Linked DNA regions of Homo sapiens: regions 1 and 2 are each linked to region 3. The links come from fine-mapping of genetic effects on gene expression. A gene starts in region 3. Each other region holds a variant in brackets. All regions are shown on one strand. Distances are between the middles of the regions.

Region 1 (7,594 bases), 21 kb before region 3:
ACCCAGGTGAAGATGGAGAAAAAGGAGAAGGCGATGGCGGCCCGGGCTGCGTCCGTCCCTTCGTTCAGTGGGTTGTCCTTGGGCTTGGAGACCTGCCACTGGTTGGCCAGGTAGCAGAATCCCACGAACCAGAGGAAAGCCCAGAAGGCTGGGGGGTCCCAGGACCGGGCAGAATAGGCAGTGCCACACATGGGGGAGAGGGTGAGTGGGGAGAAAATGGGGAAGCCGAGGAACAGAGGGACATTCAAGAGTGCATCTCCCATGCTCCCCCACCCCCAAAGGGACAGGCAAAGGGGGTAGGGGAAGAGAGAGGGGAGCCAAGAGAAGATGCAGGCGAGAAGAGGGAAGCCAGCCAGATGCAGGGGGGAGGAGGCCACAGACAGGGCAGGGTCAGGGCCAGTCAGAGGAGAGCCACGGGCAGTGAGAGGGGAGGATGGAGGGAGAGACAGAGAAAGAAGGTAATCAACTCAGGCCGCATTTCTGCAGCCTCTGCCAAACCCCCATGTCCAGCCACACCGCTGACGTGGGCCCCCCCGGTCCACCCCTGATGCCTGCAACTCTGCAGGCAGGAAGACCCCAACCCTCAGGCTGCCAGACAAATGAGGTATGGGAAGGAGGACGAGGCTGGGGCAAGGATGGCAGCTTGGCTGGGTGGGTCTGGGCTTCGACTTCTAACGTGCTGCGACCCCACAGAGCCCCAGGTTTAGCGAGGGGCCCACTGAGAGCCGAGCCTGGGGGCGTCAGCAGTGGGAGCCTCATAGCCACGCAATCTCCTGTGAGTGCCAAGGTCTCCCCAGAGAAGCCCAGACCTGCTCAGGACAAGGCGTGCATCTGCCAAGCAGGTGGGGTGCCCACCTGGGGCCCAGCCCACCTCCCAGAGGCACTGCCAGGGAACCCTGAGGCTCTGTGGAAGTTTGAGAACCATTCATTTAGTTCTAGTTCCTTCTAAAACTAGACCTCATGACCTGCCTTCAGCCTGGCTTATCCTGAGAGCTCCAGGCTTAGAACTAGGGGTTGGTCCCAGTCCGGGGACCCAAGCCTCAGAACAGCGAGGCTGAAGCCTCGGGTTCGGACCCCTGACTGAGAGCATCCACCAATCAGATTCCTGGAAGTCACGGAGCAGAGGTCAGGGTGCCTCTGCCAAAGGCTGCTTCTGAAGGGCAAAGGGCAGCAGGTCAGGTTGGCTCCACAGGTCCAGGCCCTGGTCCTGCCAAGGTCTGGCTGGGAGGCGTGGGGAGGCTGAGGCTCCAGGGCCCCTGCTGTGCACTGGGCACCCAGTCACCGCCTTGCTTAGTCCTCATGAGGCTGCCCCAGGGAGGTGGCACAGAAGAGGCCACTGAAACACGGGCCAACCCATGGGGGCTGGCACATGCCCAGTGCCATCCATGGGTCCCTTAGACTAGAAGGAACTAGAATCCCATCCACGCTCCCCTGCCTGTGGGCAGCATGGGTTATTTTGGGGTCCCAGGCCCTGTCCTGGTCCCATCCTTCCTGCTGCCAGCCATGTGACCCTGAGTCCATCCCTTCACCCGCCTGCACCTCATTTCCTCATCTGAAACATGGGAAGAAGGGTGGCAGCCGCCTCCTATGGCCGGGACAGCCCTCTGTAGACTCTGTGCAGGGGGTACCTGCTGGGTGGGGCTCACCCGAGACACCGATGTCGGACAGGACGGCTTTCTTGCGGTCCTTGACGCTGCTGATCTGCGGGAAGTACACGTCCAGGGCCAGGTACAGCAGGCAGGTGAGGAAGGCGAGCACGCCCACGGCCACGCCATAGCTGCAGGCGTTGGGGTTGCGGTTGTAGATGCAGAACTCCTCCCCCTCGGAGGCGCTGTTGAGGTAGCCCTCGTTCACGATGGAGCCGAACACCACTATGGAGAACAGCTGTCGGGGGTGGGGCCACACCTTAGACCTGGGCAGACCCCTGCCTCACACCACCCAGGGGACGGGGAGGCTGCCACCCTCGCCTGCTGCCTGGCCCTCCGTGAGCTACAAGACCCGGGTTAAGCAGGCATTTCAGAGGGGGATCCCCAGAGAGGGAGGGTAACTTATGTGGGTCACATAGCACCAGGTGGGGGTCAATCACTTCCTTCCTCAGCCACAGGCACTGAGGACTCTCTGACCATAGATGTGGCCCCTTCCAACACCCCTCAGCCAGGTCCTAAAGGTCTTCCTGGGCCCTGACACCAAGATATCCTGGGACTGGACCGACTCTCAAAGAACAAGGAGCCACAGGCCCTCCTGGGCTGTGGACCTGCCCAGCCCCCACCCCCAGGCTGACTCCTCCAGATGCTGGCATGTGCCGGGCCCCATCTTGTGTTCTCCTTCCCTCTGCAGAGCTGTGGGCTGGTCTGGGGTCTCAGGCCCCTACCCAGGCCTGGCAAGTAGATGGAGTGATGAATGAAAAAATAACAGTGGGCTGGGGGTGGTGGCTCATGCCTGTAATCCCAGCACTTTGGGAGGCCAAGGTAGGAGGATCACTTGAGCTCAGCAGTTGGAGACCAGCCTGGGCAACATGGCAAAACCCCGCCCCTACTAAAAAATAAAAAAATTACCCAGGTATGGTGGTGCGTGCCTGTAGTCTCAGGTACCAGGGAAGATGAGGGGGAGGATCTCTTGAGCCCAGGAGGTGGAGGTTGTAGTGAACCGTGATCATGCCACTGCACTCCAGCCTGGGTGACAGAGAGAGGCTCTGTCTCAAAAAAACAAAACAAAGCAAAACAAAAAACTCTCGGGCCAGGCGTGGTCGCTCACGCCTGTAATCCCAGCACTTTGGGAGGCAGAGGCGGGTGGATCACGAGGTCAGGAGTTTGAGACCAGCCTGGCCAACATGGTGAAACCCCGTCTTTACTAAAATACAAAAATTAGCTGGGCATGGTGGCGGATGCCTGTAATCCCAGCTACTCGGGAGGCTGAGGCAGGAGAATCACTTGAACCTGGGAGGTGGAGGTTGCAGTGAGCCAAGATTAAGCCACTGCACTCTAGCCTGGGCAACAGAGCAAGACACTCTCAAAAAAAAAAAAATCTATCTATGTGTGTGTGTGTGTGTGTGTGTGTGTGTATTAAATAGAAAATAACAATAGACACAATCCTGCCAGATACAGGGCACCCTGCATGATCCCAAGGGTATATTACACATGCTATCTCACTGACCCCACTACAGGATATGGCAAGAAGTGATGGGATATCACTTCTGGGAGTAAGTGACAAAGGATTTCTGCCTCCATCTTGCTCGTCCTCTTCTCCCCCACTCCCTGGTTGCTCTGATGAAAGCTGTTGTGTTTTGGACTACCCTTTGGAAAGACTGCATGGCAAGGAACTGAGGGTCTTTAGCCAACTGCCCACAGGGAACTGAGCCCCTCAGTCCAACACCCACAAGTAATTGAATCCTGCCAATACCATGTCAGTGAGCTTAAGAATGGATCCACCCAGGCCAGGCACAGTGGCTCACGCCTGTAATCCCAGCACTTTGGGAGGCCGAGGTGGGTGGATCACCTGAGGTCAGGAGTTCGGGACCAGCCTAGCCAACATGGAGAAACCCTGTCTCTACTAAAAATACAAAAAGTAGCCAGGTGTGGTAGCACATGCCTGTCATCCAGCAACTTGGGAGGCTGAGGCAGGAGAATTGCTTGAGCCCAGGAGAACTGTTTGCTGGGCCTGGGCGGAGGTTGCAGTGAGCCGAGATTGTGCTATTGCATTCCAGCCTGGGTGACAGAGAGAAACTCCGTCTCAAAAAAAAAAAAAAAAAAAAAAAAAAAAAAGAGCTGGGCGTGGTGCATGGTGGCTCATGCCTATAATCCCAGCACTTTGGGAGGCTGAGGTGAGCAAATCACGAGGTCAGGAGATCAAGACCATCCTGGTTAACATGGTGAAATCCTGTCTCTACTAAAAATACAAAACATTAGCTGGGTGTGGTGGCA[C/T]GTGCCTGTGGTCCCAGCTACTTTGGAGGCTGAAGCAGGAGAATCGCTTGAACCCAGGAGGTGGAGGTTGCAGTGTGCCAAGATCAACCCCACTGCACTCCAGCTTAGGCAACAGAGTGAGACTCCGTCTCAAAAAAAAAAAAAAAAAAAAAAAAAGAATGGATCTACCCTCAGTTGAGCCTTCAGATGAAACCACAGCCCTACCTGATGCTGTGATTATAGCCTTGTGAGAGACCCTGAGGCAGTGGCACCAAGCTTAGCAGATTCCTCACCCACAGAAACTGTCAGATAACAAATATTTCTTGTTATAAGCCTTATGTTGTAGGGCAATTTGTTGTGCAGCAATAGCTTGCCAATACATCCTGCACCATCAGCATTTTGCAGATAAGACAGTTAAGGCTCAGCTATTGTTAACACACCCAAAGTCACACAACTGGTCAGTGACAGAACCTGGCTTCAAACCCAGGGTACCTGACTCTAAAGTTCACGCTTTTTGGCTGGGCATGGTGTCTCACGTGTGTAATCCCAGCACTTTAGGAGGCTGAGAAAGGAGGATCACTTGAGTCCAGGAGTTCAAGACCAGCCTCAGCCTCCTGAGTAGCCGGGACTATAGGCGTTTGCCACGATACCTGGTTAATTTTTTGTATTTTTAGTAGAGATGGAGTTTCGTCATGTTTGTCAGGCTGGTTTCAAACTCCTAACCTCCAGTGATCCACCAGCCCCAAGCCTCCCAAAGTGCTGGGATTACGGGCGTGAGCCACCATGCCCGGCCAGAAACTATAATTTCTTTTTTTTTTTTTTTTGAGATGGACTTTCGCTCTTGTTGCCCAGGCTGGAGTGCAATGGTGCAATCTCAGTCCACCACAACCTCTGCCTCCTGGGTTCAAGCGATTCTCCTGCCTCAGCCTCCCGAGTAGCTGGGATTACAGGCATGCGCCACCACATCCGGCTAATTTTGTATTTTTAGTATAGATGGGGTTCCTCCATGTTGGTCAGGCTGGTCTCAAACTCCCGACCTCAGGTGATCTGCCCACCTCGGCCTCCCAAAGTGCTGGGATTATAGGAGTCAGCCACCACGCCCGGCCTCAGAAACTACAATTTCAATGTGAGTTGAGCATATTTTCTTCCTGGGTGATGCCCAGGATGGGTAATGATTCCAGGACAGGTATGTGAAAAATATGAGAAGCATTCTTAATATTATCTTATCTCTGTAAGATGTCTATAGTTTACATGGATTTTATAATGCACAGGATATATTAGTACAGTAGTAGCATATATGAAACCAATAAATCTACATTGAATGGGAGGATTGGTGCAAACATTTTTCCTGAAAGGAGCACGATTAAAAGTTTAGAGACCGGCCAGGTGCGGTGGTTCATGCCTGTAATCCCAGCACTTTGGGAGACCAAGATGGGTAGATCACTTGAGGTCAGGAGTTCGAGACTAGCCTGGCCAACACGGTGAAACCCTGTCTCTATACTAAAAATACAAAAAATTAGCTGGGCGTGGTGGCACACAACTGTAATCCCAGCTACTCGGAAGCCTGTGACAGGAGAATGGCTTGAACCTGGGAGGTGGAGGTTGCCGTGAGCTGAGATTGTGTCACTGCACTCCAGCCGACAGAGCGGGACATTGTCTCAAAAAAAAAAAAAAATGGTTAGAGACCTCTGGGTTAGGATGTTGTGTGTTAAGGGGGATTCTGACCTAAATGTGCACAGCAGATGAATGGGGACACAAAGTGTGGTACATTCATAAATTGGACAATTTTTCAGCCATAAAAAGGAACAACCAGCGTGGGCAACATTGTAAAACCGCATCTCTACAAAAAATACCAAAATTAGCTGGGTATAGGCCAGGCGCGGTGGCTCACACCTGTAATCCCAGTACTTTGGGAGGCCGAGGCGGGTGGATCATGAGGTCAGGAGATTGAGACCATCCTGGCTAACACGGTGAAACCCCATCTCCACTAAAAATAAAGAAAATTAGCTGGGCGTGGTGGCACGTGCCTGTGGTCCCAGCTACTCAGGAGGCTGAGGCAGGAGAATTGCTTGAACCTGGGAGGTAGAGGTTGCAGTGAGCCGAGATTCGCCACTGCACTCCAGCCTGGGCGACAGAGATCCGTCTCAAAACAAAACAAAACAAAAATTAGCTGAGTATGGTGGCATGCACCTGTGGTCCCAGCTACTTGGGGGACTGAGGTGGGAGGATTGCTTGAGCCTGGGAGTTTGAGACCAGCCTGGGCAACACAGCAAAACCCCATCTCTACAATAAATAAATTACAAATTATAAAAAAGAAAAAAATGTACACTGAATTATACAACATTAAAATGGTATGTTAGGCTAATCTGGCCACAGTAAAAAAAAGAAAGGATTCTGAAGCTGTGTTCAGCCCATGGTTCAGCCATGGGCACAGAGGTGGGCAGTGGTGGCCCGTGAGCCACCATTTGCCAGTCCTGATTTGGGAAAACCCCATGACCATGAGACTTCAGACCCGTGAGGGCATCGGGGCCCACAGCTCTGCCTCCCACAGGCTCTGCAGCCTCACCATCACCCCTAGAGTGGAGAGGGCTATTTGTAGTGTTCCCAATTGGCAGAGTAGAAAAACTAAGGCTCAGAAAGAGAAGGTGGCACTGTTGTCAGCAGCACAGGCTGAAGTTGAACCCAGGTCTCCTGATTCCCAGACCTGTGTTCTTTTCCACCTGGCCAAGCTGACTCTCAGCCTCTGGAGGTGGGCCCTGAAGAAGGGATGGAATTTACTCCCAGAGACCCAAGGGATCAGGCAGAGGACCAGCAGGGAGGAAGGCCGGGAGGGTAGCTTCAGTGTGACTGGGGATCAGGCGACTCGATTCAGTCTCAAGTCTGGTGCTCAGAGGCACAGTGGGGAGCGCCTGTGAAGTCAGGACAGAGCCATTGTCAAAGGGGCTCCTGAGCTACTGACAAACCAAGACAAGCAAGGCAGACTCTGAACACTGGGAGATGTGCAGTACACGGCCAGCTGCTTGGGCCGTGGACTGCACAACTCCAGGGACTGCTAGTCACACAACCCCTTGCACTGGTGTACTGCAACAAGTCCAAGGCTCCTACCAGAAAACTGTCAGGTTGGGAACCTGAGGCCCAGTCCTGGATGTCACCAGATGCCACCAAACCAGAACAGAAAAGGCTCCTGATCAGAAAGAGACTTCAGACACTGAGGAATCATACAGACCCGCCAATTCAAATCCAAGGCCTGCTGCTTATGCTGGGTAGCCTCAGGCAAGTGACTTAACCTCTCCGAGCCTCAGATTGGTCCTCTGTAAAAATTAACATCCCCTCTGGGGCAGATGGGAGAATTAGAGCAAGTACCCAGAGCAGAGCTTTGGAAGCCCCATAGGGGCTGCATAACGTTCATTTCCTCTCTCAAGGCCCCAGAAAAGAGGAATAACACCAGGAAGGCCCCTCTCGAACACTTACTAACAGACACATGCTTCCGGGGGCTGGAGGAGACCCCACTGCTGCCAGCGCTGAAAATAAGTGTGGATCTCCTTCCAAAAACAGAACAATATCAGGCTCCCTGAAGACAGAGAGGAGGTGGGAGGGGAAACAGGCAGGCAGAAGCCTGGGCCCTGGGGACAGCAGAGGAGGAACCATTAAGACTGGGCTCTCTTGGGAGACAGAGGCAGGCAGTCCTCAGAGAA
Region 2 (7,594 bases), 88 kb before region 3:
CGGCTCGCTGCAACCTCTGCCTCCCGGGTTCAAACGATTCTTGTGCCTCAGCCACCTGAGTAGCTCAGATTACAGGTGTAAGCCACCATGCCCGACTAATTTTTGTATTTTTAGTAGAGACAGGGTTTTGCCATGTTGGCCAGACTGGTCTGGAACTCCTGACCTCAGGTGATCCACTCACCTTGGCTTTCCAAAGCACTGGGATTACAGGCGTGAGCCACCAAGCCAGCCTGGCCCAGCAGGATTTTCATCTTGCAAAACTGAAACTCTGCACCCATTAAATATTAACTCCCCATTCCCCTGCCCCCCAGCATCTGTCAATCCCATTCTACTTTCTGTCTCTGAATTTGACTACCATAAGTGCCTCGTCTGAGTGAGACCGTATAGTATTTGTCCTTTTGTGACTGCCTCATTTTACTTAGCATAATGTGCTTAAGATTCATCTACATTGTAGCATGTGTCAGAATTTCTTTTTTTTTTAAGGCTGAATAATATTTCATTGTATGGATAGAACGCATTTTGTTTATCCATGGACATCTCATCCATTGATGAGTTGCCTCCACCTTTTGGCTGATGTATACAATATTGCTACCAACATTGCCACACGAGCATCTGAGACTTTGCTTTCAGTTCTTCTGGGTGTATACACAGAAGTGGAATTACTGAGTCGTATGGTAATTCAATGTTTAATTCAGAACTAATGTTTAATCTTTTTTTTTTTTTTTTTTTTTTTTGAGACAGGGTCTCGCTCTGTTCCGCAGGCTGGAGTGCAGTGGCATGATCTTGGCTCACTGAAATCTCCACCTCCTGGGCTCAAGTGATCCTCCCACCTCAGCCTCCAGAGTAGCTAGGACCATAGGCACGTGCCACCACACATGGCTAATTTTTTTGTGTTTTGGGTAGAGACGGTTTTTTGGGGGATTTTTTAGACAGAGTCTCGCTCTGTCGCCCAGGCTGGAGTGCAGTGGCACAATTTCAGCTCACTGAAACCTCCACCTGCCGGGTTCAAGTGATTCTTCTGCCTCAGCCCCCCAAGTAGCCGGGATTTCAGGCGCACACCCATACCCGGCTAATTTTTGTATTTTTGTTTTTTGTTTTTTTCAGTAGAGATGGGGTTTCACCATGTTGGCCAGGCTGGTTTCGAACTCCTGACCTCAGGTGATCCGCCCGCCTTGGCCTCCCAAAGTGCTGGGATTACAGGCGTGAGCCACTGTGCCCAGCCTCGCCCCCACTTTTTTTTTTTTTTTTTTTTGAGATGGAGTCTCGCTCTGTTGCCCAGGCTGGAGTGCAGTGGCATGATTTCGGCTCACTGCAACCTCCGCCTCCTGGGTTTAGGTGATTCTCCTGTCTCAGCCTCTCGAGTAGCTGGGCCTACAGGCACCCACCACCACGCCCGGCTAATTTTTGTATTTTTAGTAGAAACGGGGTTTCACTATGTTGCCTAGGCTGGTCTTGAACTCCTGACCTCGTGATCTGCCCACTTCGGCCTCCCAAAGTGCTGGGATTACAGGCGTGAGCCATGCGCCTGGCCTGAGATGGGGTTTTGCCATCTGAGCCAAGCTGGTCTCAAACTCCTGGATTCAAGCAATCTACCCGCCTCAGCCTCCCAAAATGCTGGGATTATAGTTGTGAGGCACTGAGCCCAGCTTAAACTTTTAAGTTGATGGGTACATGTGCAGGTTTGTTACATAGGTCAGTGTGTGTCATCGGGGTTTGTTGTGAAGATTAATTCATCACTCAGCCTAGTACCCATTAGTTATTTTTCCTGATCCTCTCCTTCCTCCCACCCTCCACCTTCTGAAAGGTCCCAGTGTGTTGTTCCCCTCTGTGTGTTTGTGTGTCCTCATCATTTAGCTTCCATTTATGAGAACATGCAGTATTTGGTTTTCTATTCCTGTGTTAGTTTGCTAAGGAGAACGGCCTCCAGCTGCATCCATGTCCCTGCAAATGACGTGATCTCATTCTTTTTTATGGTTGCTCAAGACTAATTTTTAAGGTGGTTATTCAGATGATCCTAAAGAGGATTATAGCCTATTTGGGTTTTTTTGTTTGTTTGTTTTTTGAGATGGAATCTTGCTCTTGTTGCTCAGGCTGGAGTGCAATGGCATGACCTCGGCTCACAGCAACCTCTGCCTCCCGGGTTCAAGCGAATTCTCCTGCCTCAGCCTCCCAGGTAGCTGGGATTACAGACACCCACCATCACACCCAGCTAATTTTTTTTTTTTGAGTAATTTTTTTGTATTTTAAGTAGAGATGGGGTTTCACCCTGTTGGCCAGGCTGGTCTCAAATTCCCGACGTCAGGTGATCCACCAACCTCAGCCTCCCAGTGCTGGGATTACAGGTGTGAGCCACCACACCCAGCTGCCTATTTGTTTTTAATTCATAGACTTAAAATGCACTATAATTTAAAACTCTCATCCTCTTCAGAGTATACAGAGCCTCCAGTCTGAAACAGTCTAGAACTGGACCATCCATTGGTGTGACCTCGAGCCATAGCCATGAAGCCCAGATCATGCTGGCCTGCACAGAATTATTCTGTACGGGTAAAATACAGCTGGATTTTGAGAAAAGGTTTTACCCCCGTCGCTCAGGCTGGAGTGCAGTGGCATGATCATGGCCCACTGCAGCCTCGACTTCCCAGGCTCAGATGATCCTCCCACCTCAGCCTCCTGAGTAGCTGGGACCACAGATGTGTGCCACCACCTCTGGCTAATTTTTGTGTATTTTTCAGTAGAGACGAAGTTTCACCATGTTGCTCAGGCTGGTCTCAAACTCCTGGACTCAAGCGATCCACCTGCCCCTTTTTACTTTTTCAAATGTGATTATTAGAACATCTAAAATGGCATATGGGCCAGGAGCAGTGGCTCATGCCTGTAATCCCAGCACTTTGGGAGGCTGAGGTGGGTGGATCGCCTGAGGTCAGGAGTTGGAGACCAACCTGGCCACGATAGTGAAACCCCGTCTCTACTAAAAATACAAAAAATTAGCTGGGCGTGGTGGCGGGCACCTGTAATCCCAGCTACTAGGGAGACTGAGGCAGGAGAATC[G/A]CTTGAACCTGGGAGGCGGAGGTTGCAGTGAGCCGAGATCATGCCATTGCACTCCAGCCTGGGCAACAAGAGCGAAATTCCATCTCTAAGTAAATAAATAAATAAAATGGCACATGGGCCAGGAGCAGTGGCTCATGCCTGTAATCCCAGCACTTTGGGAGGCAGGCGGAACATGGCAACACCCCGACTGTACTGAAAAATACAAAAAATTAGCCGGGTGTGGTGCTGCATGCCTGTGGTCCCAGCTATTTGGGAGGCTGCAGTGGGAGGATCGTTTTAGTCTAGGAGGTGGAGGCTGCAGTGAGTAGTGATCACACCACTGCACTCCAGCCTGGGTGACAGAGTGAGACTCTGTCTTAAAAATAAAATAAAATAAGGTGGAATGAAATGAAATAATACAACGGCACGTGAGGCTCACACTCTCTCTCTGGACTCTTCATCCTAGAGGACCAATTCAGGTGCTTTGTGAGTCCAGAGGAGCCACCTAGAGTTCTTCCTTCCAAGCAGAGGAAGCCTTGGGCTGGTTCCTCAATTTCACTGGGGTGAAATTCACATAGCATACAATTAACCGCTTGAAAACTGCAGGTCAGTGGCACTCAATGCATTCACCAACACCTCACCCCAGAAAAACACGCTGGCTCTGTTACCAGTCTCTGCAGTTTCCTCCTTCCCCCAGCCCTGCTTTCTGTCTCTATGGATTTGCCTATCACCGGCATCTGTAGGAGGAATCATACATGTGACCTCTTGTGACCAGCTTCTCTCATTAGCACAGTGATTTTGAGGCTCTTCCTTGTGGTGGCCTGTCAGTGTCATTCCTTTTCACGGCTGAATACTATTCCGTGGCGTGGAGGCAGCACAGTCTGCTTCTCCTCTTCGGATGGATATCTAGGTTGCTTGTGACATTCGGCTATGATGAGTAATGCTGCCGTGAACACTTCCGTACTGTTTCTGTATGTTTGTGTTTCCTGGGAGTGGAATTGCTGGCTCATATGGTAATGGCTGGTTCCTTCTATCTTTTAACATTCACTTTGCTTATCAAAAGTTCTAGATACAGCTGGGCATGGTGGCTCATGCTTGTAATCCCAGCACTTTGGGAAGCTGAGGTGGGTTGGGAGGCCAAGGCGGGTGGATCAATTGAGGTCAGGAGTTCAAGACCAGTCTGGCCAACATGGTGAAACCTCGTCTCTAGTAAAATACAAAAATTAGCTGGGTGTGGTGGTGGCTGTAATCCCAGCTACTCGGGAGGCTGAGGCAGGAGAATCACTTGAATCTGGGAGGCGGAGGTTGCAGTGAGCCAAGATTGAATCACTACGCTCTAGCCTGGGCAACAGAGCGAGACCCAATCTCAAAAACAAAAACAAAAAAAAAGAAAGTAAGTTCTAGATACACAGACTCTTGATTTCACTGAAGGGAGGTGGGGGGTACTTGTTAGGGACCCCCCATGTCAGTATTTTCAGGACTTTGTTGTGCGTCAGATTCTCCAGCGAGGAGCCTCAGTGTCCTGCTGGAGGGTGAAGACTGGGCTGTGTGCTGGGAGCTGGGCAGGGCAAATGGGGTCCCAGTGCCCAGAAGCACCCGACTGCTCTGCTTCCAGTGCTGTGGCAGTGCCGCTATCTCTGGGTGGACTCTGGTGAGCGGAGGACGGGACTGCCTGGCCATTCTGGGTGGGAGACCGGGGGACCTGACTGCGCCTCATTTTGCCCCCACCTGGGACTGCTGGCTCACGCTGAGCTTTCGGTGGTTCTTCAGGGTAAACCACACTGGTATTCAGCTGCCATCACACACCTGGGATGTAACTTCTGTGTCCCTTAAGTCAGTTGCCACTCTACATCGACTTTTCAGCTTCAAAACCTGTGTGGATGTTGTCTCCTGATTGCTACAACCTTGTGGGTTTATACCTGGAAGGAAGGAAGGGAGGGAGGGAGGAGGGGAGAGGGAGGGAAGGAGGGAGGGAAAGAAGGAGGAAAGAAGGGAGGGAGGGAGGGAGAAGGGAGGGAAGGAAGGAGGAAGGGAGGGAGGGAGAAGGGAAGGAAGGAGGGAGTGGGAAGGGAGGGAGGAAAGGAGGAAGGGATGGAGGGAAGGAGGAAGGAAGGGAGGGAAGGGGGAAGGGAGGAAGGGAGGGAGTGAGGAGGGAGGGAAGGGGGAAGGAGGAATGGAGGGAACGAAGAAGGAAGGGAGGGAGGGATGGATGGCGGGAGCAGAGGGAGGGAGAAATCCCTCCCTGTTGTTTTAAGGGGGTTTGAGAAGGGAGGGAAAGTGGACGAATGTGTTTAGCCCGTCATCTTTAGCAAAGCTGCCAGCACAGGAGGAGCCTGGCAGTCAGTCCCAGGAAGCCCAGACCCCTCAGGAGCATTCCAGGGCCCGGTGCAGAGCCCACCTGCTCTGGGAAGGTTCCGGAACTCATCAGACAGAAGGGGTCTCCCCTTGGCCTGGGTCTCAGGGCCCATTCTGGCCGTTTTGGCCAGACTTCCAGGTGTAGTTTTATCTTCCGCAGAGACTGAGCCCCTGCAGGGCCGGAGTATTAACAGAGACTTTCTGACGGCCTCCCCTCTCCCCACCCTGCCAGCCTCAGCCCCTACTTGGCGGCACACCTGGTGCCTGGTGCCCGGCAGGCTTTGTTGCTGGCTAGAGGTAAAGGGAGGGCACACCAGGAAGCCAACACAGCCATGGCAAAGGCTCGGAGGAAAGGAGCAGAGTGGGAGGGGACATCCCTCTCTGTCATCTCCGGATTTCTTTCCACCTGTTCTTGAAAGTTTCTTGGATTTTTGGAGACAGGGTCTCACTCTGTCACCCAGGCTGGAGTGCAGTGGCACGATCTCGGCTCACTGCAGCTCCGCCTCCCAGGCTCAAGCGATTCTCCCACCTCAGCTCCCCCTACCGGTTCTCGAATCTTATTCCTGGGTCTGAGGCCCCAGGGTGGTTGAAAGTTCAGGAAGGCTGGGATGGGGACGTTAGCTGCAGGCCACCGCACTGAAGAGGCTGATTTAGGCCCCGCTGGTCCCCCCGACTCACAGCCACCCTCCTGATGAGGTGCAGCAGGCATGAACCCTTGGGCCCACCATCCTTTCAGGGGGCTGTGGAAATATTTTACCTTTAAAACAGAAGAAAATGAACTTTTACTCAAAGAGAAATTTTAATGTATTAATATATTTATCTTTCTACCAATAGTCATAAAGTATAATTTTAATTTTTTTTTTGCAGAAGAGGCCCATGAAAGTCACAATGCATCCATGCCCCATGCCCAGGGCCACCCACATCTCGGGCCACACCTGATGGAAGGTTGGAGTCCTTCTCTCAGAATAGCTGGGCCCAGTGTCACAAACACTGCCCCGTGCAGGGTGCTGGGACCTAGAGAACATGGGTCCTAACCAGGAACCCCAGAGTCACTGCAGACCAAGTTCCAAGAGCCCTGAGCTCACCAGAACAGAGGACAGCCTTGGGGGATAAGTCCCTGGAAAGAAGATGAGAGTGAGCTGGGTCCTGAAGGATGGGCCATTCTAGGTGAGGGAAGCCTCAGTGGACACAGATGCATGAGGGAGGGGGTCTGCCCAGTCCCGGGGAGGGGGCGGGGCCTGGCCTGGCACGAGAAGATCCCAGTGCACAAGTCAGACCAGGCGACAAAACCCCAGGATGATCTCAGCTCCCAGAGGGCCCCTTGGTGTAGGCGCTTCCTTCCTACCCTGGGGTCAGGCTGCCCAGGAGGTTTAGTTGGCACTGAGGGATGGCTGTCAAATCGCTTGCAGGCCTGGAAGGGTCTCTGAAAATCAGGAGGAAACTTCATGACACATGAAGAAAAGTCCAGAGTTTAAATCTTTGCTCCTGTGTGATCTTGGGCAACTTTCTAAACCTCTCTGAGGCCACGGATACCAACTCTTTGCCAGGTTAAATGAGATATTACACGTCAGCTACATACCTGGAACGTAGTTAGAACTCCTTTTTTTTTTTCTTTTTTTTGAGACGGAGTCTCGCTCTGTTGCCCAGGCTGGAGTATAGTGGCACAATCTCCACTCACTGCAACCTCCGCCTCCAGGGTGCAAGTGATTCTCCTGCCTCAGCCTCCTGAGTAGCTGGGACTACAGGCATGCACCACAACGCCTGGCTACTTTTTTGTATTTTTAGTAGAGATGGGATTTTACCATGTTGGCCAGGCTGGTCTCAAACTCCTGACCTCAGGTGATCCACCTGCCTTGGCCTCCCAAAGTGCTGGGATTATAGGCGTGAGCCACCGTGCCCAGCCAGAACCTACTAGTTATTTTTATTTTTTTAAAAAGCTGAGCTGTAAACCTTCATTTGAAGATGAGATGGGGATCAAAGAGATTTATGGGCCAAGGTCGCCCAGGGGCACCCGGGAGGTGGGACTTACAGAAGCACCAGGTCAGGAAAGGTCACGTGGTCTTGGGGCAGGCTGGAAGATGGGAGGCTGTCAGCCCCACCTCCTATCAAGCCAAGGACTCTGTATCTTCACTACCACCCCCTCTTCATGGCCAAAGGACTGTGCTGTAGAGCCAGGCTCCCCGGCCCATGTGATGCCCAGTGTGTGCGGTGG
Region 3 (6,442 bases):
TAAAACGGGGGGAAGATACCCACCCCACTTACAGAACCATGTGGTATTATGGCCAAAGCCCTTAAAAAATGAACCCTGAAAATGGCAACATTTCAAACATTTTATCATTTTCATTTTGTCAAAGTAGAGAATTAAAGAAACATTGACTGGGCACGGTGGCTCACACCTGTAATCCCAGCACTTTGGGAGGCTGAGGCGGGTGGATCACTAGGTCAGGAGTTTGAGACCAGCCTGGCCAAGATGGTGAAACCCCGTCTCTACTAAAAATTTAAAAAGTAGCTGGGCATGGTGGTGGGTGCCTGTAATCCCAGCTATTTGGGAGGCTGAGGCAGGAGAATCACTTGAAACCAGGAGGCAGAGGTTGCAGTGAGCCAAGATCGCGCCACTGCACTCTAGCCTGGAGACAGAGCGAGACTCCATCTCAAAAACAAAAAACAAACAAACAAAAAACTCATCTGCCAGCACTGATATTCATTCCCTATAGTCCATCTTAGCCCCCTGCAAAAAAGAATATAAACTCCAAATAAAAGGTGGTCCTTTCTATTAAATCAGTTTAGCTTCTTGCTGTAACTCCTTTTTTTCCCATCTGGCTTTAGAACAAAGAAATGAGTCACTGACAGGCGGCAGTCACCGCGCAACAGATCAGGCACTTCTGACCCAGCCCAGCCCAGTTCGGGTGGGAAGACTGAGGCACAGAGGGTGGGGAGGGGACACTTACTGAAGGTCACAGCTGTGGCCTGGGGGTGCCAGGAGTGGCAGCTGATCTGCCACTGGGGCGATGACACCAAGAGGTGAGAAAGCCTTAGTCAAGAGACAAGCCATGCCGGATGCAGTGGCCCACGCCTCGCCTCATCGTCCCAGCTGCTCACAAGGCTGAGGTGGGAGGATCACTTGAGTCCAGGAGTCTGAGACCAGCCTGGGCAACACAGCAAGATCCTGTCTCTAAAAAAATAAAAAAGAGACAAGCCAGGTCTTGGAGGCCCTGCTTCTGTGCAGGCTGACCCAGGGGCTCAGAGGGCTTGGGTTCCAGGGTGGGTCCAGGTTGGTGAGGCCCTGAAGCTTACATGATTTGGGGGCCCTCTTTTGGAAAAGCAACAGAAAAAAAAATCTTTCTTTTACAAATTTTACAAAAATCCCAGGTCCAGGCCGGGTGCGGTGGCTCACGCCTGTAATCCCAGCACGTTGGGAGGCCAAGGCAGGTGGATCACCTGAGGTCAGGAGTTCGAGACCAGCCTGGCTAACATGGTGAAACCCCATCTCTACTAAAAATACAAAAATTAGCTGGGCGTGGTGGTGTGTGCCTGTAGTCCCAGCTACTTGGGAGGCCGAGGCAGTAGAGTTGCTTGAACCTGGGAGGCGGAGGTTGCAATGAGCCGAGATGGCACCATTGTACTCCAGCCTGGGCAACAGAGCAAGACTCCATCTCAAAAAAAGAAAAAAAACAATCACAGGTTCATGTGCACATGCTGTTAGGGCCCCTCCAGGGCTGTGGTAGGGGTCTGGGTTGTCCAGGAGTCCTGGACAGGGTGACAAATTGTCCCTGTTTGTCTGGACTAAGGGCCTCTCAGAATGCTAAAGGCAGGAAGTTCCAGCACACCAGGATAAACGGGTCACCCTGGTCCTGGAGCTCAGCTTCACTTGCTCTGCCCTGTGGTGTGAGGGCCAAGAGCAGGCGCCAGCTGCATCCCCCGCAGCTCCTGATGTGTTTAAATGGCTCAGCACGCCACACAGTTTCGAAAAGACCAGAAGGAGACAGCACCCTATTCACTGCAGCCCTCCCTAAGTGGTGGTATCACATGATTACCACCCCCCACCAAACTTTTTCTGTTGTGGTAAAACACACGTAACATACAATTTACCATCTTCACCATTTCAGTGGTGTTAAGTACATTCCTACCGTGCAACCATCACATGTGATTTTTATACTTTCCAATAATTGGCAGGTATTACTCTGATCAGGAAAAAAAGCTACTTTTAAAGGTGTCAATCAGCCTGTATCAGACACCTCTTGGTTCGACAAAGGTAGTGAGCGCCTTGTATCCACGTGTGTGAGCAGGACTGGGAGGCTGTGGGGTCGTTTGAGCATTGGTTGGTCCAGGTGACCTTTGTGTCCTTTCCAATCCTGACATTCCAGGATTCTGGATTCTTCCCTGCCCCAGGGGGAGAACTACTCTTTGGAGACAGGAAGACCTAGGCTCAAATGCTCGTCTGCCACTTACATGCTTAGTGACTTTGGGCCAGGCACTTGGCCTCGCTCGCTGAGCCGCAGCTTCCTCTAGTGTTGGGGAACCAGCTAGGTAGCTGTGTGTGGTCTTGCACCCCATGGGTGCTCAGAGGGGCTGATCCTTCCTCCTGCTTTCCACGTCCTCTCCCCTGGATGTGCATATGTATAAACCCTCATCCCACCAGGCCCAATCTGACATCACCTTCACCATGAAATTTGATTCCACAGCAGGGAGACCCCTCTCCTGGCTCTTGCGGCCTCTGCCTGGGGGCACCTGGCTCACTCCCCAGTGGGACTGTGGCTTCCCGAGAACAAGGGCTGCTTCTGAGTCACGCTGCCTTCCCTTGGGGCCCAGCAGATTCAATAAAGCTTTGCTAAATGAAGGCATCAGAGGCAGAAATGACCCAAGCAGACAAGCCCCCTCACAAAGCCAGTGGCTTCGCCCTTCCAGGCCAGAGGCCCAGGGGTGGGCAGACTAAAGCAGTGAACGCAGCCCACCCGCCTGATCCGGCAGGTGCCCCCCAGGGCTCCCACCTTTGGCAAGGGTCTGTTGGGGCATCTGGGGAGCAGGAGACTGGCACAGATAAATGAATTCAGAGCCACAAACACAGATGTGCTGGGGTGCCCGGCTCTGTGCAGGCACCGACACAAGGGTTAAAGGAACTGGGCTTTCCTGCCCTCAAACAGCTCCCATCTGACGGCATTTGAGAAGAAAAGGCTTTAAATGGGGTCATCCTTCGCAGACCAGGGATACATACCCAAGCCATCCTACCAACCAGACCCTGAAAACCAAGGAAAGGAGGAAGCTTGGGCACCCTGAGGTCACAGCTGGCCTTGGGGTAGCCCCTGGGGTCCCTGACAGTCTAGCCCATTCCTAGTCTAAGCCCACAAGGAACGGGCCCCAGGCCTGCAGAGGCCAGAACCTCGAGTGGGAGTTTCTGGGATACAGCCAGCCAAACCCAGGGAGCCCCAGAAACCCCCTCTCCAGACCCCAGCAGGGCTTCTTTCCATGAGGTGCCACTCAAGGCACCTGAACCCCTCCCTCTGTGCTCACTGTCTCTGACCCATCCTCTCCCTGACCACCCGTCTGAACAAGAGCCCACTCAGCCCTCTGCACTGAGGACCCTGCCCCCCAGCTAGGCTGGAGGCCACCCTGGCCTCTTCACTGTGGGAGCAGACCTTTCTCCCAGACACCCGCCTTGGGCATCCAGGTGCATGCTGAGTGGGAGGGGTGTTACCGGTTCATGAAATGTCAGAGCCCAAGGGGGCCTCAAGAAGGCTCCGCCCACCTTGTCTATAAATTGGGAAACTGAGGCATGAGAGAGGAGATGACACTCCCCACCTCGGAATTGAAGTCCTCATTTCTCGAGAACATTTCCTGGGTGGCTCCCAGCCCAAGGTCACGCAGAGAAGGAGAGGCAGTTCCCGGGTGGAAGAGAGGTACTCAGTTCCCGACTCATCGCTCCACACGGGCCGGGCTAGGCAATACGAACCCGGTTCCCGGCCCTCTCCTCCTCCAACGTCCATCGCAGGCGCGGCATGCACCCCACCGAGATGGTCCACGCCCTGATCCACCCCCCAAAAAAGGCCACCTTAAACCCTGGCTCCGTCCCCACGGTCCCCAGTCCGCCCTGGCGGCCGCGCACAATCCGAGCCTTTCGCGGCATAGCCGCGGCCTGGAGGTCACAGCAATCGGGGCGGGAAGGGGGGCGCACGAACCGGGGGCCCCAGGAAACCAGGGCTCCGGGAGCCGGAGCGGCGTCTCCCGCGAGCACCAGGGATCCCGCCCGCCCCGGGCCCGGGAAGGAGGAGCGGCGGCAGCGGGCCCCGCAGGCAGGACAGCTCCTCGCCCGCCGCCGCGCCGCCGCCGGGGGCCCGTTGGGGTCGGGGTCGGGGTCGGTCCGGGCGCGCCGCCTTTGCTCACACCCCCACCACCCCGGCCTGGCAGAGCCGTCGGCCAGTCCGTCCTTACCCAAGACACGACGCGCAGGATGGTGTGCGGCTGCCGGACCAGGGTGTAGGGGTCGAAGGCGCCCCCGGCTTTGCCCGCTCCGTACGCACCCCCTTCCATCGTGGCTGCACCCGCGCGGTGCCCCCCGCTCGGCGCGCGCCGCCGGCCCGTGCGCGTGCGCGGCGCCCCCGCCCCCTCCCCTGCGCGCGCGGCCGGCGGCCCAGGGCTCCCGCGAGGGGGCGTCGTGCGCGGCGGGCGCAGCTCGCGGGGCGCGGGCGGGGGGCTGGGCAGCGCGCGACCTCGGGCGCGGGGGCGCGCGTGCTGCGGCCCGGGGCTCAGGGCGCGCTCGCAGCCAGTGCGGTGACCTCTTTGCAAAGTGTTTGGGGGAGGGCGGTGCGTGCACAGCAAGTGTGGGCCGTGTCCCTGCCCCGCATCCCCGGTCCCCTGCCCCGGTCGCAGCCCCTCTGAGCCGTCGGCTCTGCTGAAACCATCTTCACGCTTGATTTGTTTGGCTGTTTCCTGCCACTTTGTCGGCCCCAAATATAATGAGAGGGCAGGAGCTGTGTTCGTCCTTCTTAGAGGGTGCTTGGTACGCAGTAGGCGCCGCATGAATATTTCTCGAATGAATGAACCACGAGTGAATGACCCTCTCTTACAGCCCTCCAGAGCAGCCCCCACCTCCCAGGACCACCCTTCCCCTGCCTCTTACGATGACGTCATGTGTGTCCCTGTGCCCGCGCACCCTCCCACCCCCAGCCTGGAGGGGCCTGGCACAGAGGCGGCGGCTGAGACTTCCTCTTCCCCATCCCCTCCTACCCCAGAACGTTGCCCCTTTCCTGAATCTAGCAATTAATTACGCAATCATTTGTTCATGGCCTCTTCTGCTGCTAGTCTGTGAGCTCCCGAGGCCCAGGTGTTGTCTAACTTATTCAATGCCTTACCCAAGGGCCTAGCATACAGTAGGTGCTCAGTAAACAGAGCCTAGTCCCCATCACCCCATCACAGCTTGGGCTAGACCTCCAGGTTTCATGGAAACGGAGGCTAGATGGAGGAGTGCTCCCTGCAGGGGAAGGGCCACCTTCCAGGGCTGGCTCTCCTGCTGCCCTGTAGCTCTATGGCCTCTCTATGTCTGCAGTCACCTTCACTGGTTCCAGGAGCAGGTTGGATGAGGATATGGGTGGAGGCTTTTGCTTCTCTGGTATCCTGCCATTCTGTGATGACAGGACACAACATCTGTGTGGAGGAAATGTGTGCTGGGCCTGAGGGTGCTCCTTATAAAAATTACATAGTCAATGTCCATCTTAGGCTCAGCTGATTGTTTAGTCTCTACCAGGCCTTGTGCTAAGGGCTTTACATACATTTTCACATTTAATCCAGCACACTTATAAGGTGTCTACTATGACTATATAAAACTTTTAGAAGAAAGCACAAGAGAAGGCCGGGCGCAGTGGTTCACGCCTGTAATCCCAGCACCTTGGGAGGCCAAGGTGGATGGATCACAAGGTCAAGTGATTGAGACCATCCTGGCCAACATGGTGAACCCGGTCTCTACTAAAAATACAAAAATTAGCCGGGCGTGGTGGCGAGCTCCTGTAGTCCCAGCTACTTGGGAGGCTGAGGCAGGAGAATCACTTGAACCCAGGAGGTGGAGGTTGCAGTGAGCCGAGATCGCGCCACAGCACTCCAGCCTGGCAACAGAGCGAGACTCCGTCTCAAAAAAAAAAAAAAAAAAAAAAAATCATGAAGAACATGATTCATAAAAGAAACAATTGATAAACTGGACTTTATCAAAATTAAGAACTTCTGTTCTTTAAAAGACATTGTTAAAAGAATGTATGAAAAGACAAACGATAGTCTGGGAGAAAATATTTGCAAAGCATAGATCTAAAGAACTTGCATCCCAAATAAAGAACGTTCGAACTCAATAATAATAAGAGGACCCACTTTTTAAAAAATGGGCAAAAGATTTGAATAGTTATACACCTCACCAAAGAAGATATACACACGGCAACTCAGCACATAAAAAGATGCCCAGCATCCGCGGTGGCTCACGCCTATAATCCCAGCACTTTGGGAGGCCGAGACGGGCAGATCATGAGGTCAGGAGATTGAGACCATCCTGGCTAACACGGTGAAACCTCATCTCTAGTAAAAATACAAAAAAAAAAAAAAAAAAATTAGCCGGGTGTAGTGGCTGTAGTCCCAGCTACTCGGGAGGCTGAAGCAGGAGAATGGCGTGAACCCGGGAGGCGGAGCTTGCAGTGAGC

Evidence for each region. PIP is the estimated chance that this variant, and not a neighbour inherited with it, causes the effect. A credible set is the group of variants that fine-mapping cannot tell apart.
Region 1: its variant is the best candidate, but not a certain one, in a credible set for the expression of SYNGR1 in whole blood (INTERVAL, PIP 0.85).
Region 2: its variant is the best candidate, but not a certain one, in a credible set for the expression of SYNGR1 in whole blood (TOPMed, PIP 0.87).

The regions. Positions count from the first base shown.
Region 1 is chr22:39,368,606-39,376,199 of GRCh38, reverse strand. It overlaps SYNGR1 (synaptogyrin 1), which reads right to left. Exons shown (of 4, transcript NM_004711.5): 2 at 1,647-1,884; 3 at 3-148. Among named protein-coding and RNA genes, the nearest start is that of SYNGR1, 22 kb to the right of the region's middle. RefSeq lists an enhancer at 1,771-2,286. The variant C/T (reference allele first, on the strand shown) is at 3,921.
Region 2 is chr22:39,435,701-39,443,294 of GRCh38, reverse strand. It overlaps LOC100506472 (a long non-coding RNA gene), which reads right to left. Exons shown (of 4, transcript NR_040535.1): 4 at 6,167-7,594. It also overlaps a transcript of TAB1 not described here. Among named protein-coding and RNA genes, the nearest start is that of MGAT3, 18 kb to the left of the region's middle. The variant G/A (reference allele first, on the strand shown) is at 3,049.
Region 3 is chr22:39,347,864-39,354,305 of GRCh38, reverse strand. It overlaps SYNGR1 (synaptogyrin 1), which reads right to left and starts at 4,315. Exons shown (of 4, transcript NM_004711.5): 1 at 4,197-4,315. The coding sequence starts at 4,295. RefSeq lists an enhancer at 2,836-2,885 and a silencer at 4,109-4,268.